Homo sapiens: one gene and its partners. The protein of the gene in region 1 interacts with the protein of each later gene in a pairwise test. Each region holds a gene or a part of one and is shown in the gene's direction. Other genes may lie near its edges. The genes, in order: DNAJB6, DXO, GINS3 and BCAT1.

Evidence for each region.
Region 2: the proteins of DNAJB6 (region 1) and DXO interact in binary tests that used the Homo sapiens proteins (3 or more experiments, as listed by UniProt).
Region 3: the proteins of DNAJB6 (region 1) and GINS3 interact in binary tests that used the Homo sapiens proteins (3 or more experiments, as listed by UniProt).
Region 4: the proteins of DNAJB6 (region 1) and BCAT1 interact in binary tests that used the Homo sapiens proteins (3 or more experiments, as listed by UniProt).

What each region holds. Positions count from the first base shown.
Region 1 is NC_000007.14:157,332,155-157,340,008, forward strand, and holds the start of DNAJB6 (dnaJ homolog subfamily B member 6), read left to right. Parts: upstream 1-4,849; 5' UTR 4,850-4,990; intron 4,991-5,399; exon of another isoform or gene 5,400-5,657; intron 5,658-7,854. UniProt on the Homo sapiens protein: Has a stimulatory effect on the ATPase activity of HSP70 in a dose-dependent and time-dependent manner and hence acts as a co-chaperone of HSP70. Plays an indispensable role in the organization of KRT8/KRT18 filaments.
Region 2 is NC_000006.12:31,969,315-31,976,261, reverse strand, and holds DXO (decapping and exoribonuclease protein), read left to right. Parts: upstream 1-4,265; 5' UTR 4,266-4,333; exon of another isoform or gene 4,334-4,580; 5' UTR 4,581-4,586; coding exon 4,587-4,942; exon of another isoform or gene 4,943-4,956; intron 4,957-4,987; exon of another isoform or gene 4,988-5,087; intron 5,088-5,114; coding exon 5,115-5,350; intron 5,351-5,436; coding exon 5,437-5,656; intron 5,657-5,783; coding exon 5,784-5,919; intron 5,920-5,994; exon of another isoform or gene 5,995-6,058; coding exon 6,059-6,153; intron 6,154-6,237; coding exon 6,238-6,385; 3' UTR 6,386-6,447; downstream 6,448-6,947. Other genes in the region: WHR1 (winged helix repair factor 1), read right to left, coding at 3,505-3,641, 3,751-3,960, 4,046-4,265; SKIC2 (superkiller complex protein 2), read right to left, coding at 6,547-6,747, 6,842-6,947. UniProt on the Homo sapiens protein: Decapping enzyme for NAD-capped RNAs: specifically hydrolyzes the nicotinamide adenine dinucleotide (NAD) cap from a subset of RNAs by removing the entire NAD moiety from the 5'-end of an NAD-capped RNA.
Region 3 is NC_000016.10:58,395,455-58,402,474, forward strand, and holds part of GINS3 (DNA replication complex GINS protein PSF3), read left to right. Parts: intron 1-7,020. UniProt on the Homo sapiens protein: Required for correct functioning of the GINS complex, a complex that plays an essential role in the initiation of DNA replication, and progression of DNA replication forks.
Region 4 is NC_000012.12:24,946,088-24,953,929, reverse strand, and holds the start of BCAT1 (branched-chain-amino-acid aminotransferase, cytosolic), read left to right. Parts: upstream 1-4,828; 5' UTR 4,829-4,997; coding exon 4,998-5,003; intron 5,004-7,842.

The sequences.
Region 1 (7,854 bases):
ACAGATAGGGAAACCGAGGCTTGTTGATGTGGGTAAAGTCAGTGCGTCATCAGCCCTAAAGTTTTATTGGGCATCAGGGGATGTGGGCACCACAGGGAACCATGCCTCGCACCCCTGTGGCCACTCAGCCTCCAGTCTGGCCCCAGTCAGCACTGGGTCCTCTTCCCTCTGCCCTGCAGCCTCTGTGCTTGCTGGCCCATGAAGCTTCTCGGTCCACTTTTGGCCTTGAACATTTCAGCTGCCCTCAACCCCCGGGGCTCCCTGCAAGCCATTACCCCAAATCCATCCACATTCTCCACGCTCCTCCTTTCTTTCTTTTATTTTTTGAGACGGAGTTTCACTCCTGTTGCCCAGGCTGGAGTGCAATGGCACGATATCATCTCACCGTGACCTCCACCTCCTAGGTTCAAGTGATCCTCCTGCCTCGGCCTCCCGAGTAGCTGGGATTACAGGTATGCGCCACCACGCCCGGCTACTTTTTGTATTTTTAGTAGAGACCAGGTTTCACCATGTTGACCAGGCTGGTCTTGAACTCCTGACCTCAGGGGATCTGCCCACCTCGGCCTCCCAAAGTGCTGGGATTATAGGCGTGAGCCACCGCACTCGGTCTCCAAAGACTTTTCACTCCTACTTAAATCTTTTCTGGGATAAATCCTTGTCATTGAAAGACCTCGTTGTTTCAAAAGAGTTAATTAAATATTACCATTTAATCTCCAAGGTGTTTATACCTGTCCTCCCTAACTGCTATGTGAAGTCCATCAGGATGGGGACCTTGTTTTGTACTGGTTGCTTTTCTTCATGATAAAATTTATTGTATTGACATGCTTCTTAAAAATTATGTATGTATTTGTTTAGAGACAGAGTCTTGCTCTGGCACCCAGGCTGCAGTGCCATGACATGATCACTGTTCACTGCAGCCTCGACCTCCTAGTCTCAAGTGCTCAAGTGGTCCTCTTACTCAGCCTCTTGAGTAGCTGGGACTATAGGTGTGTGCCACCATGCCCAGAAAATTTTCTTTTTTCTTTTTTTTTCCTGAGACAGAGTCTTGCTTTGTCACCCAGGCTAGAGTGCAGAAGCACGATCTCTGCTCACTGCAACCTCTGCCTCCCGGGTTCAAGCAATTCTCCTGCCTCAGCCTCCTGTGTAGCTGGGAATATAGGCATGTGCCACGACACCGGGCTAATTTTTTGTACTTTTAGTAGACATGGGGTTTCGCCATGTTGGCCAGGCTGGTCTCGAACTCCTGACCTTGTAATCTGCCCACCTCAGCCTCCCAAAGAGCTGGGATTATAGGCGTGAGCCACTGTGCCTGGTCATAATTTTCTATGTATTTATTTTTGAGACAGGGTCTGTGTTGCCTAGACTGGAGTACAGTGGTGCTCTACTGAAGCCTGGACCTCCCTGGGCTGAGGTGATTCTCCCACCTCAGCCGCCTGAGTGGTTGGGACTATAGGTGTGTGCCACCGCACTTGGCTAATTTTGCTATATTTTGTACAGATGGGGTTTCACCAAGTTGCCCAGGCTGCTGTCGAACTCTTGAGCTCAAGCAATCTTCTCGCCTCGGCCTCCCAAAGTGCCAGAAAAAAATAATTTATTTTTGGTAGAAATGGGGTCTTGCGGTGTTACCTAGGCTGGTCTGGAATTCCTAGGTTCAAGCAATCCTCCTGCCTCAGCTTCCCAAAGTGCTGGGATTACAGGTGTGCACCACTGTGACCAGCCTGATACGCGTTTTAATGTGTGTGTGTGTGTGTATATATATATACACACACACACATACACACACATATATTTTCTTTTTCGAAGGGGGAAAAGCTATTTGTGGCTAGCCTACCACTTACAATGTAAAATTCATGTCTGTGCTGCTTACATTTCAAGATGAGCTCACAATCACTGTAGGGACGTATTGACATGTAAAATGTCCCATGATAGTACTGTCTGTCCACACTGAGATGGAACTAAACCTCCATCAATCTGCAAGCAGATAGGTTACATGTGACAGTGCCAAGCTGTGCACATATCTGAAATTCCAGTCTTTGCTGAGATTATTTTAGGTTTTATTATGAGATGCCCATACTAACACAAACTATTATTTCTTCCTTTTGAACAGTCATTTATATAACCAGTAAAAAAAGAGAATAGAGGCTGGGCTTGGTGGCTCATGCCTGTAATCCCAGCACTTTGGGAGGCTGAGGTGGGTGGATCACCTAAGGTCAGGAGTTTGAGACCAGCCTGGCCAACATTGTGAAACCGCATCTCAACTAAAAATACAAAAAATTAGGCATGCATGGTTGCTCATGCCTGTAATTCCAGCTACTCAGGAAGCTGAGACAAGAGAATCACTTAAACCTGGGAGGTGGAGGTTGCAGTGACCCTAGATTGTGCCACTGCACTCCAGCCTGGAGGACAGACAGAGAGACTCAGTCTCAAATAAGAATAGAGAATCCAGTCAGATTTTCCTTTGCTAACTGATCATTTGCTAGAAATGACATGCAGTAATACAATTAAAGTTTAAGAAACACAAAAAATGAGCCCAGCACAGCGGCTCATGCTGGTAATCCCAGCACTTTGGGAGGCTGAGGCAGGAGGACTGCTTGAGCCCAGGAGGTTAAGGCTGCAGTGAGCCATGATTGAACCACTGCACTCCAGCCTGGGTGACAGAGCAAGACCCTGTCTCAAAAAAAAAAAAAAAAAAAAAAAAAAAAGGGCAGTATTTCATTTTGAAGTATAACAATTACAGCCATTAACCAAGTGTTCCAGTTGTCTAAAATGAGGCAGGTGTAGACGGAAAATTTTCCCTGTACTCTCTGAAGGTTTCACAACTGAGTCTCTGAACTAAGCTGACAATAGACAGATTCGTAAGAGAAAAAGTATACAAATCTATAACATGTACTAGGGCATCCCAGAATCCAGTGAGATCTGGAAGCTTATACAGCCCCTTCATAGAAGAGAGGGGAGGCAGATGCAGGCAGCTCAGGGGAGAGAAAATGATTTTTTGCCTTCAGAATAGGTGGTGGCCTGTGGCAAAATCTGTCTGGGTGTGCAGCTGACGTCCCTTGAAGCTCTTCTCCCGTGATCCTGGCTCATTCTTCCCTGGATGAGACTTCCAGGGAGGGGGTCAAGACAATTGAGTCCCTTTGGGATGATCTGTCTTTATGTAAATAATGGGGGATTCACAGAATGCCCCTCCCTGCATTGGCAGGTCCCCATGTGCCCTCAGTTTGAGGGCATACTAATGTGGTAATCAGTGAACTAGTTAGTAATCAGTATCCTAATATGGCATAATTCAGGGTGGCATTTCTCCAACTCTTTCATTACTAACGAGCTATTTTAAACCAAAAGTGATTCAAGTGTTAAAGTGCCTTTTACTTGAATATCTCCCAGGCTTAAACGATCACGAATTCATAAGCGTTGTTAGTTCAGAAGGTGGCTGAGCAGGCCCCCGGAATTCAGTGTCAGCATGCCACAGGATCTGAAGTTCAGGAAAGGTGTAACAAAAAGGGATTTTTCTTTTTTCTTGAGACAGAGTTTCGCTCTTGTTGCCCAGGCTGGAGTGCAATGGTGTGATCTCCGCTCACTGCAACCTCCTCCTCCTGGGTTCAAGCGATTATTCTGCCTCAGCCTCTGCAGTAGATGGGATTACAGGCATGCACCACCACACCTGGCTAATTTTTTTTGCATTTTTAGTAGAGACGGGGTTTCTCCATGTGTCAGGCTGGTCTCGAACTCCCAACCTCAGGTGATCCGCCCGCCTTGGCCTCCCAAAGTGTTGGGATTACAGGCGTGAGCCACCGCACCCAGTTGAGATTTTTATTTCTTAAAGGAAAGGATAAGGTGGGCCAGGACTAAGACAACACAGTAGCAAACATCTGGCTGAATGCTGGAGAGGAAGACAGTGGGAGATCCAGGCCAGGCTCCATGGACGAACTGCTTGTTGGCTCCTTAGGCTTTGGGTCTGCGGGACCCTTTCGCTACTGGGAATGGGAGCCTGTCTGACTGCACTGGGTCTGAGACTCCCTGCTCCTGCTGGTCACCATCTACACGCATGTGGTGTTGGTCTCCAGGGTTAGAACCAGAACCCCTGAGGACGCGGGAAAGGCTAGGAAGCCTGGGGATGACCTAAAGTCCAGCTATCAAAATGCGCCGCGTTTTCAGAAAAACTACTGCCACGATTTAACCTAAAAAGCTTCATCTGTATTTTCTGCCACAGTTTGCTTCCGTTTCCTTCAGTCACTATTCCCTGGCGAAGTCTCCACGCGCTCCCGTTCGCCGGGGAACTTAGGGTATCCGGGCTTCCCTAAATTGACAAGCGGGGGCCGGCGCCTTCGCCCGCCTTCGCTGGCCGCCGCTTGGTTTGTTCTTCTTCTCCTTCGGGGACTTCTCCGCCCGCGCCCGCGCCCGCGCCCCAGCTTTCGTCCCGCTGTGCGGAGATGCCACCCAGCTCCACCGCAGGACCGCGGAGCGAGAGGCGGCAGACGCGCTCCGGGGGCCGCCGGTCAAGAGGAAGATGAAGGGCGCGACGACTTCGCGGTTTCCAGAATGGGCTCCTTCTGGCCCAACAATAAGTGCCATTTGGAATCTTCTCGGCCTTCTCTGTGCCTTCCGCGCGTCTGGGCTCCCCGGTACCGTAGACCCGGCCCCGAGCTCCGCCCCCTCGCCCTGGGCTTCCCCGCCCCCTCGCCCCCAGTCTCCTGGGCTCTTCGGGGCGGCGGAAGAGCCGAGAACCTTCGCGAAGGTGGGGCGGGCGCCCCCGAGGTTGGGCCCGCGGTATGGGCAGTGGAAACTGCGCATGCGCGGCGTCAGGGTCGGGCGGAAGTTGACGCCGCCGTGCCGCCGCCGCGTGACGCATTTCCTGTTTGTTGTTGGAGAAAGGAGAGAAAGGAAAGCGCGAGGAGCCGCCGCCACCACCAGCGCAGCAGTCCTGGAGCTGTGAGGAGATTCGGGCCGTCACCCTGCCTCCCCTGCGTCCCGCCACCGGCCGCTTCTGTCCTCGGTGAGGGTCTGTTCCGAGGGTCGGGGGAGGTCGCCTAGGGCCCCGCGCGCGCCCGGCAGACGGCGGACCTCACCCGGCGCCTGGCAACAGCGCGGGGGGTGACCGGGGTCGCCGGCCGGGGAAAGGACTGGACGGGGCGGGGGCCGTGGCCGGGGTTGCGGGGCGAAGGGTGGGCGGGGTCCTCTGGGTCAGGTCTGGGGCCGGGGCCGGGGCTGGGGTCTGGGGCCGCCCGGCCGCGTCCTCCCCGCCCGGCGTCCTTGCCGGAACGCGGCCCAGCCTCCGCGGCGGCGGTTGGGGGTGGGGCCCGGCCTGGGAGCGGCCGGCTGGGGCTCGGCTGGGGCTCGGCGGGGCCGGCAGCGTGGGAGGCGTGGAGCGCCTTCTTTTTCTAAGGCTCCCGCACTCGCGTCTGAAACCAGAAACGGGAGTGGCTTGCGGAGCAGGAATGCCGCAGCCGTGCCGCCAAGTTCGGAGGGAGAAGAAGCAGGTGGGGGACCGCAAAGCCCTGTTTCTAGAACTCCGGACGGATTGTTCAGAAGTTTGTGGAAGAGCAGGCTGCCTTTCTCACTCAGAATGTTTGTCTGCTTTGCTTTGCGTTAAAGAATCTGCACCGTAGTTGATGCAACTGAAGTTTATATAAGAAGTTTACATTAACTCTTACCTAAGGAAGGTCAGTGACACACGCAGTGTAAACTGCAAATCATATATTGGCTCGAGAAAGGTTTTGGCACTAGCGAATTTTTTAAAGGATGGGTTTGCTAGTCAGACGTAAACTTCTGTGCTAACTTCTCACGTAAACGGGGCAGGAAACAGCGCAAGTAGAACGATCGTGCCACCACCGAAGGGGTGCCGCCTGCGAGCTCGGAGGCTTCAGCCTGTTTGGGAAGAGTAGGCTGAGCGGCGCTCTTTGTAGTTTTCAACGTTTTTATTGAGTTGCGAATTTTAGTAAGGATTTGTCGCTACAATTTAAGCCAAATTATTGATTTAGTAGAAAAGTTAGAGTGAAGACCGAAGAAAGGAAACAGACGTTAACCATTAAAGCTTGATTGCTGCTGCTTCGTGTTTAACCGCACTTTTCCAAATAGTGTTGCGTATCAGAACGATTCATGATTTCTGAAAGGAATTATATGCAGCCGCCTTACTCCTCCGCCAGTCCACCCGTCCCGCGTTCTCTCTGGGTTTACTCCAGACTTCCTTTTTTTTTTTTTCCTGAGACGGAGTCTGTTCTGTTGCCCAGGCCAGAGTGCAGTGGCGCGATCTCCACTCACTGCAACTTCCAGCTCCCAGGTTCAAGCGAGTCTCCTGCCTCAGCCTCCTGAGTAGCTGGGGTTACGGGTGCTCGCCACCATGTCCGACTAATTTTTGTATTTTTAGTAGAGACGGGGGTTTCACCGTGTTGGTCAGGCTGGTCTCGAACTTATGACCTAAAGTGATCGCCTGCCTCGGCCTCCCAAAGTGTTGGGATTAGAGGCGCGAGCCACCGCGCCTCGCCGACTCCAGACTTGTTTCCACTCCTGAGGGCCTTAAGCTCCCTTGGAGTTTGTGCTTTCACATTTCTTTCTGCCTTCCGTGATAAAGGGATGAATAGTTTTTATGCACGCTTCAGCGAGCTGCGGGTTTTTGTGGATTACGCAGGCTGTGAAATTTGGGAAGTAAGTTGCCTTAAGTTGGTAGATGTGGAGATTTGACAGGAAGTGGGAGAACAAAGGGGTTGGGAAGCTTTTGGAAAGTGTCCAGGCTTCATCTGTGCTGTGGAAGGTGAGAAAGTTGGGAATTCCAGAGGGCAGAGCTCTTAAAGAATTTGAGATGAGTTCAGCACTCTCTTCAAAACAGTGTTTTAAAATTTATTTTCTTCTGGATATGAAAGTGTTAGGTTTGGGAAGTAATTCTGGCTGTAGGACAGTTTTTCCGGAACACTAGGTGGGGAGTGTTGAATGTTGTGAAGACTAAAATATGCATATGGTATTACAGTGTGATACCTGTTACTGAGTGGCGTACATTAGCTTTCATTTTTAAGCAAGCCCGTAATTCCCTTCTATTAACTCTGTTTTGGACAGTGGTACCCGTCACCCTCATCAGTCTTCAACCTAGATAACCTAAATCCAGGTCTGAGGTGGGGGTGGAATGGTCTGTTTGCACCTTTTTTTTTTTTTTTTTTTTTTTTTTTTTTGAGACGGAGTCTTGCTCTGTCGCCCAGGCCGTAATTAATGCGGTGGCGCGATCTCGGCTCACTGCAAGCTCCACCTCCCGGGGTCACACCATTCTCCTGCCTCAGCCTCCCGAGTAGCTGGGACTTCAAGCTTCCGCCACCACAGCCGGCTAATTTTTTTGTATTTTTTTAGTAGAGACGGGGTTTCACCGTGTTAGCCAGGATGGTCTTGATCTCCTGACCTCGTGATCCGCCTCCTCGGCCTCCCAAAGTGCTGGGATTACAGGCATGAGCCACCGCGCCCGGCCTTTTGTGTGTGTGTGTGTGTGTGTGTGTGTGTGTGTGTGTGTGTGTGTGAGATGGAGTTTAGCTCTTGCCCCTGCTGGAGTATAATGGCACCATCTTGGCTCACTGCAACTTCGCCTCCCAGGTTCAAGCGATTCTCCTGCCTCAGCCTCCCGAGTAGCTGGGATTACAGGCATGCGCCACCACGCCCAGCTAATTTTTTCTATTTTTATTAGAGACGAGGTTTCACTATGTTGTTCAGGCTGGTCTCGAACTCCTGACCTCAGGTGATCCACCCGCCTCGGCTTCGCAAAGTGCTGGATTACAGGTGTGAGCCCGCGCGTCCGGCTGTCACTTTAAAGAGTATTATAAGAGGGCACTTCATAACTTGGGCAGGTATTTTTAGTCATCCTGAACGTGTCGCTGTGGACTG
Region 2 (6,947 bases), on another chromosome or scaffold:
CCCCCTGCCCGGCCAGCCACCCCGTCCGGGAGGTGAGGGGCGCCCCTGCCCAGCCACCCCTACTGGGAAGTGAGGAGCCCCTCTGCCCGGCCAGCCGCCCTGTCCGGGAGGGAGGTGGGGGGGTCAGCCCCCCACGCAGCCAGCCGCCCCGTCCGGGAGGGAGGTGGGGGGTCAGCCCCCCACCCGGCCAGCCGCCCCGTCTGGGAGGGAGGTGGTGGGGTCAGCCCCCCCCGCCCGGCCAGCCGCCTCGTCCGGGAGGTGAGGGGCGCCTCTGCCCGGCCGCCCCTACTGGGAAGTGAGGAGCCCCTCTGCCCGGCCAGCCGCCCCGTCCGGGAGGGAGGTGGGGGGGTCAGCCCCCCGCCCGGCCAGCCGCCCTGTCCGGGAGGTGAGGGGCGCCTCTGCCCGGCCGCCCCTGCTGGGAAGTGAGGAGCCCCTCTGCCCGGCCACCACCCCATCTGGGAGGTGTGCCCAACAGCTCATTGAGAACGGGCCACGATGACAATGGTGGTTTTGTGGACTAGAAAGCGGGAAAAGGTGGGGAAAAGATTGAGAAATCGGATGGTTGCCGTGTCTGTGTGGAAAGAGGTAGACATGGGAGACTTTTCAAAAAAAAAAAAAAATAGTGGAATTATCAAAAAGACAATTAAAAAAAAAAAAAACAGCACTTTGGGAGGCCGAGGCAGGCAGATCATCTGAGTCAGGAGTTTGAGACCAGCCTGGCCAACAGGGTGAAACCCCATCCCTATAAAAATACAAAATTAGGCCGGGTGCGGTGGATCATGCCTGTAATCCCAGCACTTTGGGAGGCCGAGGAGGGCAGATCACGAGGTCAGGAGATCAAGACCATTATGGCCAACATGATGAAACCCCCATCTCTACTAAAAATACCAAAATTAGCTGGGCATGGTGGCGCGTGCCTGTAGTCTCAGCTAATCAGGACAGTGAGGCAGGAGAATTGCTTGAACCCAGGAGGCAGAGGTTGCAGTGAGTTGAGATCACACCACTGCACTCCAGCCTGGGCAACAGAGCGACACTCCACCTCAAAAAAAAAAAAAAAAAAGGGAAAACTAAGGCAACAATGACCACAGCAGTCACCTCCCAGGGACATTCTGATCAGAGACATTTTGATCAGAGAGGGATATATGTGGGATACTGGTCATATTCTATAGTTTGACCTAGGGAGTGGCTAGATAGGTATCTGCTTTATAAACATCATTTAAATTATATATGTTTATATTTTCATTCTGCAACTTTTAAAGGTTTTTAAAAACAAAAGCTAACACCAATACATTAAAATCAACAAATACTCCTTAAGGAGTGGTTCCATCTGGCATGCTTCCTCACGGGAGACCTAGTCAGGGAGACTAGCTCACCTCAAGTGAGTGCTAGACTGCCTTCCTTTTCTTTCCTCTTTTCTTGAAAGATCACTATTAACCTTCTACCTGCTAAATCCAATGGACAGATTTCAGTTCTGGGTTTTTTTGTTGTTGTTTTCATTTTTTTAGAGACAGGGTCTCCCTCTGTTACCCAGCCTGGAGTGCAGTCGTGCAATCATAGCTCACTGCAGCCTCAAATTCCTGGGCTCAAGCACTCCTTCTGCCTCAACTTCCCAAACAGCTAGAACAATAGGTGCACACCACCATGCCCAGCTAAGAATTTTTGTGTTTTAATTTATTTATTTAGTAGAGATGGGATCTCAGTTATTTAGTAAAGATGGGGTCTCACTTTGTTGCCCAGGCTGGTCTCAAACTTTTGGTTTCAAGCTATACTCCTGCCTCAGTCTCCCAAAGTGGTGGGAGTACAGGCATGAGCCACCACACTCAGCCTAGATTTCAGTTTATATTTTACTTTACCTCTTCCCTCTTCTTAGACCACTGTCTTGAATCACAGGTTCTAATACTGCCAACTACTTCACTTTCTCAAAAATCTCTTTACTTTCACAGTAGGCCTCTTCCTGGGTTACTTTTTTTTTTTTTTTTTTTGAGACAAAGTCTAGCTCTATCACCCAGGGTGGGGTGCAGCGGTGCTATCTCAGCTCACTGCAACCTCCGCCTCCCCAGCTCAAGCAATCCTCCCACCTCAGCCTCCCCAGTAGCTCTATAGGCGCGTACCACCACGCCTGGCTAATTTTTGTATTTTTTGTAGAGATGGGGTTATGTCATGTTGCCCATGCTGGTATCAAACTCATGAGCTCAAGAGATCCACCCACCTCGGCCTCCCAAAGTGCTGGGATTACAGGTGTGAGCCACCGCGCCGGCCTCTGGGTTCCTCTTAACTCAGGCAAGTCCCTCTCTGCCTCTGTCACAGATTCCTCTTCTTCTGCTTTCCCTTTATGTCAGTGGATCTCAAATTTTAAGGCACACTTAAAAAGCACTTGAGGCAGTTCAAAAATGTAGAGTCCCAAATCCCGCCCCAAGAGAGCGTAATTCATTAACCTTGGATGAGTCCCAGGAACCTGTATTTTTTTTAACAAGCAGCCCACGTAATTTTGACACAGGCATAATAACTCAGCTCATATATTCAGTAACACTGCCTTAAATGATGGTGTTTCCCAGCATTGTGGATTTGACCCTATTAACTTCCACTCTAAACCTGGAGTCCTTAACCACGGACCTCGCAGGATTAGTAAAATATTTCCCCCCTAACTATACATACACCCTATGTATATGTGGCAAACGTGCATTTTTCTGGAGAGAGATAGCCATAGCTTTTATCACCTTCTAAAGATTACAAAAAGGTTAGAAATCACTCCTCTACCCACTCTTCCTACTGGATCTCACCACATCACAGAATTAACCACTTGCTATTCACACCTCCATGACTTGTAATTCTATTATCACTGGCCCAGAATTCTCTCCAACTCTCATATCCAACTGTCTAATACCTTTGTCTTTGGATGCTCCACATGCACCATCAACTCAACTTGTATAAAATTAAACACATTATCTGTAGTCCAACAACTAAATGTGCTCCTAATACCACCAGCCACGCAGTCATCTGGAAAGTCTGAGTTGTCCTGGACTCCTCCCTCTTCCTCACTCTCCTCTCCCTCCCTACTGCACTGACCTAATTTAGGCCTTCACCACTTCTCAGATGCAGTATCTTCTTAGCTGACCTCCCTGCCTCATCCACTATCTCCAATACACCATTCCCTCTCTCTATGATATTCTCTACCAGCCCATCGCCTCAGTGTAAGATGGAAACAACACTGATGTACAAGGCCTGTCATGATCTGACGTCTGACTGCACTCCCAGCGCTGTATGTTCGAACCATGCCCCATGACTCGGTTTCCCCAAAAGCCTCGTTCTTCTACCTCCATGATTTGAAATGCCCTGTACTACCTGCGGGACTTTTAACAGGGTCTCTGTGGCACCCCAGTGCCTGGCACAGTGCCCTCGCCTGAAAGGCCTAATGCTTGCTGAACGGCTGGCGGAGTGACTGAGTGACAGGGAATTCCAGGAGTTAGGAAAGGGGCTTCCGGCGGTCGCACCGACGCCCCTCACCAGCTGCCGGTCGGCCACGGTCCTGTCAGGCACAAGGCTGTACACCTGGCTCCTCAGCACGATGGGCGGCAGCGCGTCCTCAAACAGGCCTCGCGGGAACAGCTGCATGAGTTCTGAGACAGCCGCGCGCGCCGACCCTGGGCAGATAAATCGGCTCACGGACAGGGAACTGGGGCGGGGACGCGGTTCTAACAAAACTCTCGGCTACCGGAAGCGAGGCCCCACCCCCGGGGTTGCCATGGTTACCTGGCTCACCCCGAAGAGGATCCGACTCCACAGGCCCTCGCTTCCGCCGCCTCTTAACTCCAAAGGTCTCCGGGATCAGGTGATGCCTCTTCCAGCTCATATCCCGGGATTTTATGGTACCGGGGAAGGGGTAGGAATGGAGGGAAGAGAACCTGAAAATAGGGTCTTCCGGCGCAGAGCAGTGACGTACGGTCTCCCCGGGCGTCCCTCCTAGACCAGGTGATGACGAAAGGAGCGTCAACTTGTCGTCCCTCAGGCCCGTCAGTGCTGGGAGGGGCGGTGGCGACGCACATACCAGCATCACCTCCGCCAGGCCGGGCCCCACGCCGGCCGCGGATTGGCTCCCTCCAAGGGCACGCACGCCCGGGGACTCGTTGGCGGCGTGGAGGGGCGCCGGTGGCCACGTTGGTGTCAACCTCCTTCGTGAAGCTCACACCTCCCCCGCCCCGGGAGGGGTTTGCCCGCCACTGTCGCTGAATGATTGCATCATCGAAAGCAGAAAACCACTTTTGCATCCTTCGGCCTCTGGCGTGCCTGCCATGACGTCATAGCTCTGCGGAGGTGGAAGTTGGGGAGCTTTGAGGTAACTGGATTCTTGATCTGAGCGCAGACGTCCTTCCTAACCTCACTGCATTTGGAGGACCTGGAGGGAGGGTGGGTGAAGGGCAAGGAAAGAGGCAGGATGAGAGCTTGGCCGCGGTGGCGTCTGAGGGGCCTGAATGTTTCAAGGCCAGAGCCTGGCGATCAGGTGGCTCGCTTAGTCCTAAACCAGTCATCCTTCTCCAGGCCTCCTCTGTAGAATGGAAACTCTGTACCCCTGCTTGTCTTAGGACCTCATGGATCCCAGGGGGACCAAGAGAGGAGCTGAGAAGACAGAGGTAGCTGAGCCTCGGAACAAACTACCTCGTCCAGCACCTTCTCTGCCCACAGACCCTGCCCTCTACTCTGGGCCCTTTCCTTTCTACCGGCGCCCTTCGGAACTGGGCTGCTTCTCCCTGGATGCTCAACGCCAGTACCATGGAGATGCCCGAGCCCTGCGCTACTATAGCCCACCCCCCACTAACGGTCCAGGCCCCAACTTTGACCTCAGAGACGGATACCCGGATCGATACCAGCCCCGGGACGAGGAGGTCCAGGAAAGGCTGGACCACCTGCTGTGCTGGCTCCTGGAACACCGAGGCCGGTTGGAGGGGTGAGCAAAGCGTGGTAGGCAGTATATCTGGAGACCCGTACCTACCCTCTAAAATTAGGAGAGCCAAAGCCGGGGTGAGAATCAGTCCTTAGAAGAAACAAGACTATTCTTCGAGGGGAGCATCTCACTAATGCTTGTGTCAGACCTTCAGCCTGTAACTCCTGCCTCTCAGGGGTCCAGGCTGGCTGGCAGAGGCCATAGTGACGTGGCGGGGGCACCTGACAAAACTGCTGACGACACCGTATGAGCGGCAGGAGGGCTGGCAGCTGGCAGCCTCCCGGTTCCAGGGAACACTATACCTGAGTGAAGTGGAGACACCGAACGCTCGGGCCCAGAGGCTTGCTCGGCCACCGCTCCTCCGGGAGCTTATGTACATGGGATACAAATTTGAGCAGTACATGTGTGCAGGTGAGTTGCCCCTGCTTCATAGCCCCCTTCCCCTTCCCAGAGGTTGAGAGCCCCCCACGCCTGCTGCTGCTTCTCTCCTTGTGCAGACAAACCTGGAAGCTCCCCAGACCCCTCTGGGGAGGTTAACACCAACGTGGCCTTCTGCTCTGTGCTACGCAGCCGCCTGGGAAGCCACCCTCTGCTCTTCTCAGGGGAGGTAGACTGCACAGACCCCCAAGCCCCATCCACACAGCCCCCAACCTGCTATGTGGAGCTCAAGACCTCCAAGGAGATGCACAGCCCTGGCCAATGGAGGAGTTTCTACAGGTTCAGGATCGGGGTGGGCAGGGCGAGAGCTTAGGCTTGAAGGCTGGGAAAGGGACTTGGGGAGGAGGGTGAAGGCAGAATGGAGGGTGCACGAGGGGTCCCACTGATCCCTTGCTTTTCCTGTCAGACACAAGCTCCTGAAATGGTGGGCTCAGTCATTCCTCCCAGGGGTCCCGAATGTTGTTGCTGGCTTCCGTAACCCAGACGGTTTTGTCTCTTCCCTCAAGACCTTTCCTACCATGAAGATGTTTGAATATGTCAGGGTAAGGGAACGATGTTGCAGCTCCCACCCGTATCCCCAAACACCAAGACCACAGGTCTAGCATCCAGGGCAACAGCCTGCCTTCTCTCCTCCCACCACCCCCACTGCCCATCTTCTGCCTCCTCCTCTGCCTGCTCCAGAATGACCGTGACGGCTGGAATCCCTCTGTGTGCATGAACTTCTGTGCCGCCTTCCTTAGCTTTGCCCAGAGCACGGTTGTCCAGGATGACCCCAGGTGAGGCATTCAGCTCTGTCCCTCCCCTCTGGATCCCAGGATCCAGCCTCTGGCCCTCAACTGATGCCTCCATCTGCCCCCCAGGCTCGTTCATCTCTTCTCTTGGGAGCCTGGCGGCCCAGTCACCGTGTCTGTACACCAAGATGCACCTTACGCCTTCCTGCCCATATGGTATGTGGAAGCTATGACTCAGGACCTCCCATCACCCCCCAAGACTCCCTCTCCCAAATAGTAATGCTTTAGAGGGAGGCAGTCATATCTCTGTGTGCAGATAATAAAAGCATATTTCTAAGAGGTTCTCTCGCTGTCTTCTTAGCTGAGTCATCCCTGTCCAGCAACTCAAGCACACAACAGTGCTTTGCTGTTTTATCATCATGTTTTTACATGGGGCATTCACTGGGTGTAGAGGCTGGCCGCAAATACGATGTCCCGCCGTAGCAAGGTAGCCGCTGTCTCCATCTTGGCACCCAGCACAGGCTCTCCTACCAGGCGGGCTGCCCCCCGCAGTGAGCGACACATCTCAGCCAGGCGCTGAATGCAGCGGACCACCAGGCCCTCAGGGGTCCCTGAGAGCCCTGCCAACTCGGAGAAGGGCTGTGGGGAAAGTAGGGTGAGGACTGGATGCACTCAGCCTGGGCAGGTTCTCCCCAGCCAGCCGTCTGCAAAATCCCAAACCTCAGGTACTCACCATGCCCCGGGCCCACTCATATACAACCTCAACCAGCCCAAAATTCAGCTCCCCCACAAATTCCTCCACCGTCTGGTTCAGGCCACAAGCCACCTGGACCTCACCA
Region 3 (7,020 bases), on another chromosome or scaffold:
TTCCTAGGCAGAGGACCCTGCGGCCTTCCGCAGTGTTTGTGTCCCTGGGTACTTGAGATTAGGGAGTGGTGATGACTCTTAACGAGCATGCTGCCTTCAAGCATCTGTTTAACAAAGCACATCTTGCACCACCCTTAATCCATTCAACCCCTGAGTGGACACAGCATATGTTTCAGAGAGCACAGGGTTGGGGGTAAGGTCACAGATCAACAGGATCCCAAGGCAGAAGAATTTTTCTTAGTACAGAACAAAATGAAAAGTCTCCCACGTCTACTTGTTTCTACACAGACACAGCAACCATCCGATTTCTCAATCTTTTCCCCACCTTTCCCCCCTTTCTATTCCACAAAGCCGCCATTGTCATCCTGGCCCGTTCTCAATGAGCTGTTGAGTACACCTCCCAGACGGGGTGGTGGCCGGGCAGAGGGGCTCCTCACTTCCCAGTAGGGGCGGCCGGGCAGAGGTGCCCCTCACCTCCCGGACGGGGCGGCTGGCTGGGCGGGGGGCTGGCCCCCCCACCTCCCTCCCGGACAGGGCGGCTGGCTGGGCAGAGGGGCTCCTCACTTTCCAGTAGGGGCGGCCGGGCAGAGGCGCCCCTCACCTCCCGGACGGGGCGGCTGGCCGGGCGGGGGGCTGACTCCCCCACCTCCCTCCCGGACGGGGCGGCTGGCTGGGTGGGGGGCTGACCCCCCCACCTCCCTCTTGGACGGGGCGGCTGGCCGGGCAGAGGGGCTCCTCACTTACCAGTAGGGGCGGCCGGGCAGAGGCGCCCCTCACCTCCCAGACGGGGCGGCTGGCCGGGTGGGGGGCTGACTCCCCCACCTCCCTCCCGGACGGGGCGGCTGGCCGGGCAGAGGGGCTCCTCACTTACCAGTAGGGGCGGCCGGGCAGAGGCGCCCCTCACCTCCCGGATGGGGCGGCTGGCCGGGCAGGGGGCTGACCCCCCCACCTCCCTCCCGGACGGGGCGGCTGGCTGGGCAGAGGGGCTCCTCACTTCCCAGTAGGGGCGGCCGGGCAGAGGCGCCCCTCACCTCCCGGACGGGGAGGCTGGCCGGGCGGGGGCTGACCCCCCCACCTCCCTCCCGGACGGGGCGGCTGGTCGGGCGGGGGCTGATCCCCCCCACCTCCCTCCCGGACGGGGCGGCTGGCCGGGCGGGGGGCTGATCCCCCCACCTCCCTTCCCGGACGGGGCGGCTGGCCGGGCGGTGGGCTGACCCCCCGACCTCCCTCCCGGACGGGGCGGCTGGCCGGGCGGGGGGCTGACCTCCCCACCTCCCTCCCGGACGGGGCGGCTGGCCGGGCGGGGGGCTGACCCCCCCACCTCCTTCCCGGACAGGGCGGCTGGCCGGGCAGAGGGGCTCCTCACTTCCCAGTAGGGGCGGCCGGGCAGAGGCGCCCCTCACCTCCCGGACGGGGCGGCTGGCCGGGCGGGGGGCTGACCCCCCCACCTCCTTCCCGGACGGGGCGGCTGGCCGGGCAGAGGTGCTCCTCACATCCCAGTAGGGGTGGCCGGGCAGAGGCGCCCCTCACCTCCAGGAGAGGGCGGCTGGCTGGGCGGGGGGCTGACCCCCCCACCTCCCTTCCGGACAGGGCGGCTGGCCGGGCGGGGGGCTGACCCCCACCTCCCTCCTGGATGGGGTGGCTGCCGGGCGGAGACGCTCCTCACTTCCCAGACGGTGTAGCTGCCGGGCGGAGGGGCTCCTCACTTCTCAGACGGGGTGGTTGCCAGGCAGAGGGTCTCCTCACTTCTCAGACGGGGCGGCCGGGCAGAGATGCTCCTCACATCCCAGACGGGGCAGCAGGGCAGAGGCACTCCCCACATCTCAGACGATGGGCGGCCGGGCAGAGACGCTCCTCACTTCCTAGATGGGATGGCGGCCGGGCAGAGACGCTCCTCACTTTCCAGACTGGGCAGCCAGGCAGAGAGGCTCCTCACTTCCCAGACGGGGTGGCAGCCGGGCAGAGGCTGCAATCTCGGCACTTTGGGGGGCCAAGGCAGGCAGCTGGGAGGTGGAGGTTGTATCGAGCCGAGATCACGCCACTGCACTCCAGCCTGGGCACCATTGAGCACTGAGTGAACGTGACTCCGTCTGCCATCCCGGCACCTCGGGAGGCTGAGGCTGGCGGATCACTCGCGGTTAGGAGCTGGAGACCAGCCCGGCCAACACAGCGAAACCCCGTCTCCACCAAAAAAATACGAAAACCAGTCAGGCGTGGCGGCGCGCGCCTGCAATCACAGGCACTCGGCAGGCTGAGGCAGGAGAATCAGGCAGGGAGGTTGCAGTGAGCCGAGATGGCAGCAGTACAGTCCAGCTTCGGCTCGGCATCAGAGGGAGACCGTGGAAAGAGAGGGAGAGGGAGACCGTGGGGAGAGGGAGAGGGAAAGGGAGAGGGAGAGCTTGTCTAAATTTTCAATGGTATCAGTACAATGTTCAGAATTTCCTTTACTATCTTTTTAATGTCAGTAGGATTACAGTGGTGTCCTTATTTTTATTTTTAATATCAATAAATTGTGTTCTCCCTTTCTTGATTACCCTTGCCAGGAGTCTATCAATTTTTTTATTCTTTTAAAAGAACTAACTTAGGACTCTGTTGGTTTTCTCTTTTGTACCTTTGTTTTTTAGGTCATTAATTTTTTAATTAGTTCTTTCCTTCTACTTTATTTGGGCTTAATTCTCCCACCACACACACACACACAGATACACATTTTGAGATGGAAACCTAGGTCATTAATTTTTCAATCTTCTTTTATACATTCATAGCTATTCATTTCTTTTAAGTGAAATTATTCTATTCAATTCACAACTTTAATTGCGTTTCATAAGTTTTGATGTGTTATATTTTCATTATCAATGAACTAAAAATACTTTTTAGGCCAGGCATGGTGGCTCACACCTATAGACCCAACACTGGGAGGTGGAGGCAGGAGGATCACTTGAGCCCAGGAGTTCGAGACCAGCCTAGGCAACATAGTGAGTCCCCATCTCTACAAAAAATTTTTTAAAAAAGCCGAGCATGGTAGCACACACCTGTGGTCACAGCTACTCAGGAGGCTGAGGCAAGAGGATCACTTAAGCCTTGGAGGGTCAGTACTGCAGTGAGCCGTGATCACACCACTGCACTCCAGCCTAGATGACACAGCAAGATACTGTCTCAAAAGAAAATAAATAAAAATTTTAAAATACTGTTTAATTTTGCGTTTTAAAATACTGTTTAAAATACTGTTTAATTGTGATTTCTTTTTTGACCTGTAGGTATTTAGAAGACTAGTGCTTAATTTCAAACATTTTGAGATTTGGTCATTTACCATTTTTTATTTCTAGCTTAATTCCACCGTGGCCAGAAAACATAGTCTACATGATTTCAGTCTTGAAAGTTGCTGAGACTTGCTCTATGGCAAAGCATAAGACCAATTTAACCATTCTGTGTGGACTTGAAAAGATGTCTATGGGAAGTCATAGTGTGCAATAAATAATCCGTATGTGTAAATTAGCTCATTTGTTAATTGTTTTGTTGAGATATTCTCTATCCTTGCAATTTTTTTTTCTACTTTTTTTTTTATCCTGTAAAACATGTGGACCAGGCATGGTGGCTCCTGCCTGTAACCCTAGCACTTTGGGAGGTGGAGGTGAGAGGATCACTTGAGGCCAGGAGTTTGAGATCAGCCTAAGCAACATAGCAAGACCCTGTCTCTAGGAAAAATTGAAAAATTAGCTGAGTGTGGTGGCACATGCCTATAGTCCCACCTACTCAGGAGACTGAGGCAAGAGGATTACTTGAGCCTAGAAGACCACTGCACTCCAGCCTGGGTGACAGAACAGGACCCCCTCTCTGAAAAAAAAAAAAAAATTGAAAAAATGTTAAAGTCTCTCATTATGATTATGGATTAGCCTGTTTATCCTTTTACTTCTGTTAATTTAGACATATATTAATAATTTTCTGGTAGATATAATGACCCTTTTATTATTGTCACGTCTCCCTTTATCTCTAATGCTCCTGTCTTTTGATTCATGTTTACATGACTTTTTTTAATCCTATTTTTAATTTTTCTGTGTCTTCATATTTAAGGTATGTCTCTTTTATGCAGCATATAGTTGGGTTTTGTTTTGTGTGCAGTGTGCTGATTTTTAATTGTTATATTTAATCCATTTACATTTAATTATTGACATATTTGTATTCATTTTTACCTTCTTACTATTTTCTTATGTCCCATCTGTTTTAGCTTTCTTTTTCTATCCTTTCTTGACTTCCTTTTGCATTAATCAAATTTATTTTATTATTCATTTACCTTTTTATTAGTTTATTTAGTTATATATTCTTCTGTTATTTTAGTGGCTACCTTAAATATATTACACAATCATTTCTGACCAAAAAGAATGTTATATAAGTTACTACTTTCACCACTTCACAGAAATGACTAGAATCTTAGAACACTTAAACCCATTTTTTCTCTTGTGTTATTGTGATGTATTCTAGTTTGACTCATTGAAAACCCCTGTAAAACATTATTATTATATACCCACTTATATATTCTTTTCATGACTTGTTTTTCCTTTCTGCATTTCTGTAGTTCTTTCTGGAATCATTTGCATTCTCTCTTCAGAATTCCCTTATTCTGGATCTTCTGGTGATAAGTCTCAGTTTCTGTCTGTGTCACAGATGCCCAAGACCAACCCAGATTTGATGATTCACTAAGAGGACTCAAAGGACTCAGCATATAGTCACACTCATGGTTAAGATTGATTACATCAAAAGGATATAAAGCAAAATTAGCAGAGGGAAAGGTTGCATGGAGTAAAGTCTGGAGGAGACCAGGCACAAGCTTCCAAGAGTCCTCTCCTAGTGGAGTCACACAGGATGCACTTAAATTCTCCAGTAATTTGAATTCTGATAAAATGTTTGAAATACTGTCTCCTAGGGAAGCTTGTTAAAGACTCAGTCCCCAGGGTTTTATTGGAGGCTGTTCATGTGGCACTTTCTGTCTAGCACAGACCAAAATTCAGACTTCCAGAGGGAAAGCAGGTGTTCAACATGAATCACATTGTTTGCACAGACAGTTCAGGCACACTCTCATCAGTTCTAGGACGGGTGAGAATCCTCCTGAAATCCAAGTTCCCAAATGCCAACCAAGGGCCAACCTTGCAGCAGGCCTTGCTAAGATAGCAGCCTCAGGCCTACTGTGTATCTTTCCTGCATACTTTCTCTATGGAAATGCCTTTATTTCACTTTTACTTTTAAAGGATATTTTCACTGGGTATAAGATTTTACACTCACAGTTATGTTCTTTTAGCACATAAAAAAAAAATTCCATTTCCATTGTTTTGTGGCTTCCACAGTTTCTGTTAAGAAGTTGGCTTTTTTTTTTTTTTTTCTTTTTTGAGACAGAGTCTTGCTCTGTCGCCCAGGCTGGAGTACAATGGTGTGATCTCGGCTCACTGTAACCTCTGCCTCCTGTGTTCAAGCGAGTCTTCTGCCTCAGCCTCCTGAGTAGCTAGGATTACAGGCGCCCACCACTATGCCTGGCTAATTTTTGTATTTTTAGTAGAAACGGGGTTTCACCATGTTGGTCAGGCCCGTCTCGAACCCCTGAGCCCATGTGATTTGCCCGCCTTGGCCTCCCAAATTATTGGTGTGTCTGGAATTGGTTCCTTCAGGTGGGTTCTTGGTCTCGCTGGTCTCGCTGACTTCAAGAATGAAGCCGAAGACCCTTGTGGTGAGTGTTACAGTTCCTAAAGGTGGTGTGTCCGGAGTTTGTTCCTTTAGATGTTCAGATGTGTCCGGAGTTTCTTTCTTCTGGTGGGTTTGTGGTCTCGCTGGCTTCAGGAGTGAAGCTGCAGACCTTTGCAGTGAGTGTTACAGCTCATGAAGGTAGTGGGGATCCAAAGAGTGAGCAGCCATCAAGACTTACTGTGAAGAGCTAAAGAACAAAGCTTCCACAGCGTGGAAGGGGACCCAAGCAGGTTGCTGCTGGTGGCTTGGTGGCCTGCTTTTATTCCCTTATTTGGCCCCACCCACATCTTGCTGATTGGTCCATTTTACAGAGAGCTGATGGTTCATTTTACAGAGTGCTGATTGGTCCGTTTTACAGAGTGCTGATTGGTCTGTTTTTACAGAGTGCTGATTGGTGTGTTTACAAACCTTTAGCTAGATACAGAGCACTGATTGGTGCATTTACAATCCTTTAGCTAGACAGAAAAGTTCTCCAAGTCCCCACCCAACCCAGAAGCCCAGCCGGCTTCACCTTTTATTGGGATTACAGGCGTGAGCCACCGGCCCCTGCCAAAAAGTTGGGTTTAACTCTTAATGTTCATTCTTTAAAGGCAGTGTGTTCGTCACTCCCATCTACAGCTGTTTTTAGGATTTTCTCTGTCTTTGGTCTCGTAATTCAGGTAATATATGCCTAGTTGTGATTTTATTAGTATTTATTCTATTAATACTTGTTATTCATAATGTTCCTTGAATCTGTGGTTTGATACCTTTTTTAATTTTGGATAATATATAGCTATTATCTCTTCAGACATTTATTTTGCCTCAATCTATCGCTCCTGCCCATCAAATTACATGCATGTTGAACTTTGTCTTTCTTTTACACCTTATTTCATACATCTCTTAGGCTCTTCTCTGTTTTTTCTCTAGATACTTTAGTCTGGTTATTTTCTATTGACCTTTTCTCATTCACAGTCCTGTCTTCATCCAAATCCAATCCAGTAAACATGTTAAATTTGATTTAATCTATTGACTTCTTAGGTTCAATTATTGTATTTTTCAGTTCTGGAATTTCCATTTGATTTCTAAGTTTATCTTAAAGTTGGCGCCTAATTTCTCTGCTATTCGGTGTCAAATAGGGGGCTTACTTCCCTCCCTTCTTTCTCAGATCTTAGGCCCTCATGTCCTGGTGGTGTTGGCAGCCTTGAACTCAATATTGGTCTGTCTAGTCCTGTGCAGTTTGCCAAAAGCTCTGCTTCCACACCCACAAAGCTGCTCCCATCTTTTTGCAACAGTTCTCCCTTGTGAGAGTTT
Region 4 (7,842 bases), on another chromosome or scaffold:
GAAAGTACCCTGAGAGGTTCTAGAGAACTAGCAGAAAGAAGACTTTACAATATCCTTTCAAAATAGATAGGAATTAATTTATTTTTATTTTTATTTTTTTGAGATGGAGTCTTGCTCTGTCGCCCAGGCTGGAGTGCAGTGGTGCGATCTCGGCTCACTGCAAGCTCCACCTCCCGGGTTCAAGCCATTCTCCTGCCTCAGCCTCCCGGTAGCTGGGACTACAGGTGCCTGCCACCAAGCCTGGCTAATTTTTTGTATTTTTAGTACAGACTGGGTTTCACCGTGTTAGCCAGGATGGTCTCGATCTCCTGACCTCGTGATCCGCCCACCTCGGCCTCCCAAAGTGCTGGGATTACAGGCATAAGCCACCGCGCCCAACCCAGTAAATCTAATTTTACATGGGGATTAGGTACTAGAGTGTGTACAACAAGGATAAAAATAAATCCAGTGAGTCAAAATTGTCATGGGAAATTTCCCAAAAAGTACAGTATAAATGATTTTCGAGTATTGAACTTGGTGTGTGTCTGTGTGTGTATGCATGTGTGTGTGCACATGTATGTAATGGGCAATGAATGCAAGTATTATAGGAAATATAAAAACAGTACAATTTTGAAGTATTTTTTACTATGAGAAATAGAGAAAGAGAATGACATTGTTTTCTGAGTGTGTAGAGTAGAATTTTAGAGTAGATTTTCCTCTTTTAAGACAGAGTATCATTGCCTTATGTAAACTCTCCTATTCAAATTCCAGGAACTGTTAATAACTCAAGGCAGAGAATATTTGTGAGTTTCTGCTTTCCTAGAGAAAATTTAGTAAGATACAGGGAAGACATTCTGCAGGTAGTTGGCACATATTTTTCATAATGATGGCAATAAAAGCCTTTGTTAATAACAGTGAGGACAAAATGAAGCTGGACTGTCTGGCGCTCTGGAGTCAACCTCAAAATTAGTGTCTATTAGAAATCTTAGAAATGCTGTCTCTTCTTCAGTAAAAGACACTGCCCATAGATGGGTATATGGTATATATCCAGTTTGGATCCAGTTTTCCTTAAATATCTTTTACTGTGACTTGTTTGAAGTACAGTGCCACTGTCAGAGTAACAACCTTCGTTGATCATGAGCCTCATCATTTGGGAAAAGCATGTGTGTTGTCTGGGAGAGAAGCTTTGGGAGTTTACAGTTGACAATGAGGGAGAACTGTGGGGCCCTTCTATCAACACTAAAGGGAAATGGGAGGAGAGACATAGCTAGATTGTTCTTATATTCTTTTTTTTTCTTTTTTTTTTTTTTTTTTTGGAGATGATGTCTCACTCTGTCACCCAGGCTGGAGTGCAGTGAAGTATGAAGTGATCACAGCTCACTGCAGCCTGGATCTCCTGGGCTCCAGTGATCCTTCCACCTCAGCCTTGGGAGTAGCTTAGACTGCAGGCACATACCACCACAAACAGCTAATTTTTGCATTTTTTGTAAAGACTGGCTTTTGCTATGTTGCCCAGGCTGGTCTTGAACTCCTGCTTTGACGTCCCAAAGTGCTGGGATTATAGGCGTGAACGCCCGGCCCTCATATTCTTCTGTGGATGTTAATTCCCTAACTTTCTCACTTCCCTTCAAGCTCTTTTTTTTTTTTTTTTTTTAAATATATACTACCTTCTCTCTTCCTTTGTTGCTAACATCAAAAGAATCCTTAAGTAGGGGTAACAGCAACAGGGTTGGAGGTGAAACTGTACCTTCAAGCCAAAAACAGCCTGAAGGCTGAAAGACCAGACTGCTGGTCCTGGATGAAATCCATGACGCAGAGTGAGAATTTCTGTTCCTGTTTGCCTGCCCCTCCCCTATTCTGAGCCGATAAAAAGCCCCAGGACTCAGCCTCATGGAGGAGACTTTCCTGCCTTCGGGTAGGGGGACCACCCCCGCTTCCCTCTCTGCTGAAAGCTGTTTCATCCCTCAGTAAAACTCCCCGCCTTGCTCACTCTTCAATTGTCAGCACATCTTCATTTTTCTTGGGCATGGGGCAAGAACTCAGGAACCAATGTGCAAGGCAAACTTGTCTCAGGCGGGCAAATTGCGTGGGGTGCCTCCTGCAGCAGGTAGTATGCCCCGAGCTAGGCCTCCGGCATTGCCGGCTAGAGGTCCTTGACTGGCAAAGGGACTGAGAAAAATCCTGCATTGAGGGAGAGGGGGGCGAGGGGCGGTCGTTGGATCTAGGAGTAATTGCCAGGCTTGCTCTAGAACTTATTAATGCATTTATATCTATGACCCCATCACTCTCTATCCCCTTATTACTCTTTCTCATAAAATTTACCACATGGTACCTGTTTTTTTTTTTTTTTTTTTTTTTTTGAGACTGAGTCTTGCTCTATTGCCCAGGCTGGAATGCAGTGGCATGATCTTGGCTCACAGCAACCTCTCTGCCTCCCAGGTTCAAGCGATTCTTGTGACTCAGCCTTGTGAGTAGCTGGGATTACAGGCACCCCGCAACCACGCCCGGCTAATTTTTAGTAGAGACGGGGTTTCACCATGTTGGCCAGGCTGGTCTCGAACTCCCGACCTCAAGTGATCTGTCTGCCTCAGCCTCCCAAAGTGCTGAGATTACAGGTGTGAGCCACCATGCCGGGCCATAGAGTAACATCTTTATTGAGATATAATTCACATAACATACAATTCACCTATTTAAAGGGTATAATTCAGTGGTTTTTAGTGTGTTCACAGGGTTGTGTAACCATTACCACAATCTAATTTGAGAACATTTTAATCAATTCAAAAAGAAATCCAACGCCCATGAACATTCACTCTGCATTCCACCCTGTCCCCAGATTGAAAACAACTATGTGTTTTCTGTCTCTATGGATTTTCCTGTTCTGCACATTTCAGATAAGTGGAATCATATAATATGTAGTCATTTGTGAGACGCTTCTTTCACTTTGCATAGTTTTCAAGGTTCATCCATGTGACTGCATGTAATCAGTACTTCATTTCTTTTTATTGCAGAATATAATAATATTCCATTGTATGGATGATACCATGTTTTATTTAGCCATTCCTCAGTTGATAAACATTTTGCTACCTGATTTAAAGCTTACTTTCTGTTTCTCACACTAGTATATGAGCTTAATGAGGGTAAGAACATTTTTGTTGTTTCCCACTCAGTCCCTAGCATTTTGCACATTGCCTGTCTCATGTCAGTGTCAGGTTCAAATCTATCTAGCTGTGCTTTCACTGACGGGGGCCAGGAGGTTTCACAAGGACTCAATGGCTGATTAAATGCTTACAGATACAGATTTCTCAGGGCAGAACTTCTGCAAGCATTTTGGCTGTGGTCAGTTACTTTCAGGTTTTCATTACTTTTTGGTTTTCACAGCATCCGCAAGTGCCCATAGCCATTATCTCAGCTGCCTCTCTCTTTACTCTCTTGCCAATGGTGCCAGGCCACAGCAGGTGTTATCTTATCACCTCAGTCCACCATACATATGCTTATCAATTTGAGGGGTCAGCAATTTCACTGGAGGCTGAAACCCTTGTCATAAATGGCTCCATTTTGAGACATTTCAGATTACAAACCACTGTTATATACCAGCCTAGCATGTAGAAATCACTCAGTACATTTATTGAACACATAATTTAACCATTCATTCACCTGACCAACAGTCATTAAGCACTGACACATTTGTTTTCAACACTCCCTCTCTTCCACGGCAGGCCACTTGGTATGGGAGATAAATATGACAAAGGATCTGCCCTTACGAATCTCATAATCCACTGAAGTGACAACTGTGCAAACAAATAATTAAAGTAAAATTAAGAAGCTGGGCACAGTCTCACATCTGTAATCCCAGCAATTTGGGAGGCGGAGGCGAGGGGATTGCTGAGGCCAGGAGTTCAAGACCAGCTTGGCCAATTTAGTGAGACCCCATCTCCATTAAAAAATGATAAAATAAAATAATTGATTTTGAGAAAGGATGTGGACAAAGTGCAGCACATAGACCAAGGGCCCAGTTCTGTTTGAGGGCATTGGAAGCAACTTCCACAGCAAAGACTTGGGTTGAAATTTACAAAAATAGGAGTTTGCCAGCTTGACAGAGAGGCAGCGGAGGTCAACCAGCAGCACACTTAAGCAGTCATGGAGGCTGACCTAGGCGCTGGACATGGAAAAGTAGCAATCCTGGAGCTTTGTATAGATGTGGGGAGGGAACTTACAGGGGACCAACTAGGCTACTGGGCAATTTCACATTATAAAGAATTTTATATGCTCAAATTAAAGGATTAAAAATTTTCCCCCATGTACATAATAAATTGGCAAAAATGGTTATATTTGAGGGTGACTAAGGAACTCTGGGAAAGAGATCGGCAAACCAGGCACATGTTCTTGACTACTGCAAAAGTACATTTAAAGTAGCCGCGGGGGATACATGTATACTTTTGGGCAGGATTGTGCCGTGGTCCTCTCAGCATGCAGCAAAGTTACTTTGGGGACAGTAGGGAGGTGGGCAGGAGCCAGTGATGACGGAATGGCAATCACATTTGACCTCTGATCTGTTTATTTCCTCCTCCTTGACGTCTCCATATAAATGTTACACGGGCATCCCCACACTCGGATACGCACCCACAGTGGCTGATTCGGGGGTAACCGTGTCATTTGCTTGCAACACTGGCACCTCTGCCCTGCACCCCGGGAGTGAGCAGTGAGTGAGGCTCGGGTCTGGGCGCTGGCTCCGAATCTTCGGGCTGGGAGAGACTCCACCATCTGGGGGCGGCCTGGGGGAGCAGCCTTAGTGTCTTCCTGCTGATGCAATCCGCTAGGTCGCGAGTCTCCGCCGCGAGAGGGCCGGTCTGCAATCCAGCCCGCCACGTGTACTCGCCGCCGCCTCGGGCACTGCCCCAGGTCTTGCTGCAGCCGGGACCGCGCTCTGCAGCCGCAGACCCGGTCCACACGGCCAGGGGCTACGACCCTTGGGATCTGCCCTCCGCTCAGCTCGAGCTTCCCTCGTGGCCGACGGAACAATGAAGGTAACTACTTATGGTTTTGTCCGTGTTTTACAAAAATGTGTGCGTGAATCGAACCGGCGATTTCTCCAAGAAACATAGTTGGCAGGGAGGGGAGGAAGGCGAGACAACCATGGCTTATATCCCCCGCAAACGTCTCAGTATCTTCTTTATCAATCGTAGTTTGCGGGGACCGTGCATTCTGTTCAGATTTCGGTTTAACCTCCACTCGCAGGACGTGCCTTCTCGGACTTTTTCACATTCGCTTTTGGGAACGGAGGTGAAAGTCTGCTACAGCTCCCTCCCCTGCTTGTGAAGTTTGGAAAGGAAGTGAGGGCTTCTCTCAGTTTCTCCTATGCACAGGAGGTGGGGAATTTTGGAGAGGAGGTCTGGGGATGTCCCGGGCTGTAAATGCGCTTTCCTGCAGCGTGTGTTCGTGATGCAGGAGGGAGCGGCTGGAAGAGTTGACCCGGGTGGAGAGGGGAGGGAGAACGATCTTTTCACTGTTAAAAGCAGAAGGCCCCTCTTATTTTGTTTCTTGTGGAAATTAAAGCTTCTAGGAGTTACAAATGATAGACGCCTAAGGGCATTCATTTGTTAAACCAGTGAGCACCCTAATGGCTCTGATCTTGCTAATCAAGGATAATTAGCCTAGCTGCCTATTATTTCTGACTATTTAGGTGTAGGGATGTACACCGTTGAGTGTTTTGTTTTCCTAGTTTCACACACTGGAAAACTGCAATCGCATATAAAACCCGAAGAGCAACTTTTTCCAAGGAAAGTGAAGGATGGGCAGATATTCTTGCCATCTAACATTTTGGAATTGAGATGACCATAATGCAATCTGAACTTCTGGTAGGAATAAAGCCTCGTTTCAGAGTTTCTAAGGAGGGAGATGAAGCGTGGTTCTCAACTGCTCTTATCTACAACCCATCCCAGACCATAGTTTCACTTAGAAGAAATAATATGTAAATAGCGCCTTTGTTGCCAAACAAAAACTTTCACTACAATTAAACAGTAACCGAGTGGAAACTATGCGTTTTTGTATTCAACAGAGATCACACAACTTTTCTTCTATAGTTAGAGGTTCTATTTCTGGCTTCCTCATGCTTGTTTCATTTCAGATGAAAAACACACTTTAGTTGATTATAGCTTTAGTAAGTAAAAGGAGAAAACTAAGAATGAACAGTCTTGCTTTTCCAGCTTTTTCCTGTCCATGTGCAGTTGTGGTTAATTACGCGTTTTTGTAGGTCCAAAAACCCCTGTCCCTTCCACAAGATACTTTTATAACATGGGGAACTAGGTAAGATATCTACAAGTAGTCTCTTTTCTGTTTCCTGATATTTCCTAAGATTAAGAAAGAAATGATTGTATTCTAGGTATGATCGAAGAAGTATGGAAGGTTCCATTAAGTTAGTTTTATCACAATATTTCAAACATCTTTCCACTTATCTCTTAAATATGTATTGCTATCACAAGCTTGATTTTTTAAAAAAATGTTATTTGCACATGGCATCTTGATTGCCTTTGTCCTCAGCAAATTCTCCGGGCTTAAGTCATGCATGAGCTTGTATTTTAAGACAGACACATGCAGAATGGGCAACTTGGATAAGAAACATAGGATATACACTGAGTAGCATGTGTACAAAAATGGTAAGTGAGTATTATGACTTAATAAATTTAGATGGGGATTTAAAAATGATACACATGTAAATGGGATTGGAGGCAAGGGAAGTCCGTGTGTGTGTGTGTGTGTGTGTGTGTGTGTGTGTGTGTGTGTGTGGAGGGAAGACGGGAGGCCTAGTGGGGAGAGAGGTTTTACATTCCAGACACAGGATGTGGCCCCTCAGGCTAGGCTCAGAGATGTAAAGCTAGTTAAGCTGGCCTAACAAAAGGGTGGTGGTTAGAAAAAGGAAAAAAAGAGGTGGGGGTTGGGGAGGAAAAGAATTTAATGCTGGCCAATATTTTCATCTGATAAGTTTCAGTAATGAGTAATTTCACTGGATTTCAGAACTACAGAGAGAAAAGGGGAAAAATATTTTTCCTTTTTTACGCAAGAATTTCTCTTGCTTTTCAGCTCATTAGAACCAGATCTAATTATTTGAAATGAGTTTAAAACCTTATTATGAAAGGAAGTTGAAAACATTCGATCACAATTGAGTTTTGTACTATGGACTAAAACCAAGATGTGCTTTCTGTCAGTAGCTGTGCAACTCCCTGAAAAAAGAAAAATAGCGCAGAGCGATCTGAGCTTTGTGAAGGCTACACAATTTATCAGGCCCAGAGAGATAGGAGTGTGAGACTTCAGTCACGTCCCCCCGTACGCATGCGCAGGAGTAATTATTTAAAGACATTTTGTTCCTGACTAACTGCCTCACTCATTATGTTCCTGGAATTTGTGATACAAAAAAACAATGTTTAGCCTATCAATAGTTTATATAGTTTATGTTATTTTAATATAAATTCTTCTCAACTTAGAAACTGCCTCTTTTTTCTTTTAAAAACCCACTTGTAACTGCTGTATATATTCAGGGCAACTTGATTTGGTGTTTCGTTGGTTGCAGTCCTCAAATTTGACCTCAATATACTCTCTACTTATATAAATTTTGTCTCAGTTTTGTCCGTAGGCTGACATTCCAATTGTTTTCCTAATTATATATTTTGTTCCTTATTTCTCATGTCTAGAAATAAAGCTAGGGAAGTAAACAGCTGGAAAACTGATAGTGGTGTTATTAACCTAACTGAGAGGGCTGGGCTTATGAGTAAATTATTCCTGTGCATAAATGAAAGATTGTTTCTAAATGGCAGCTATGTTGAGCCTTTGTATTAGTTACATCTTTTGGGGTTTCAGGTTGCCAGCTTC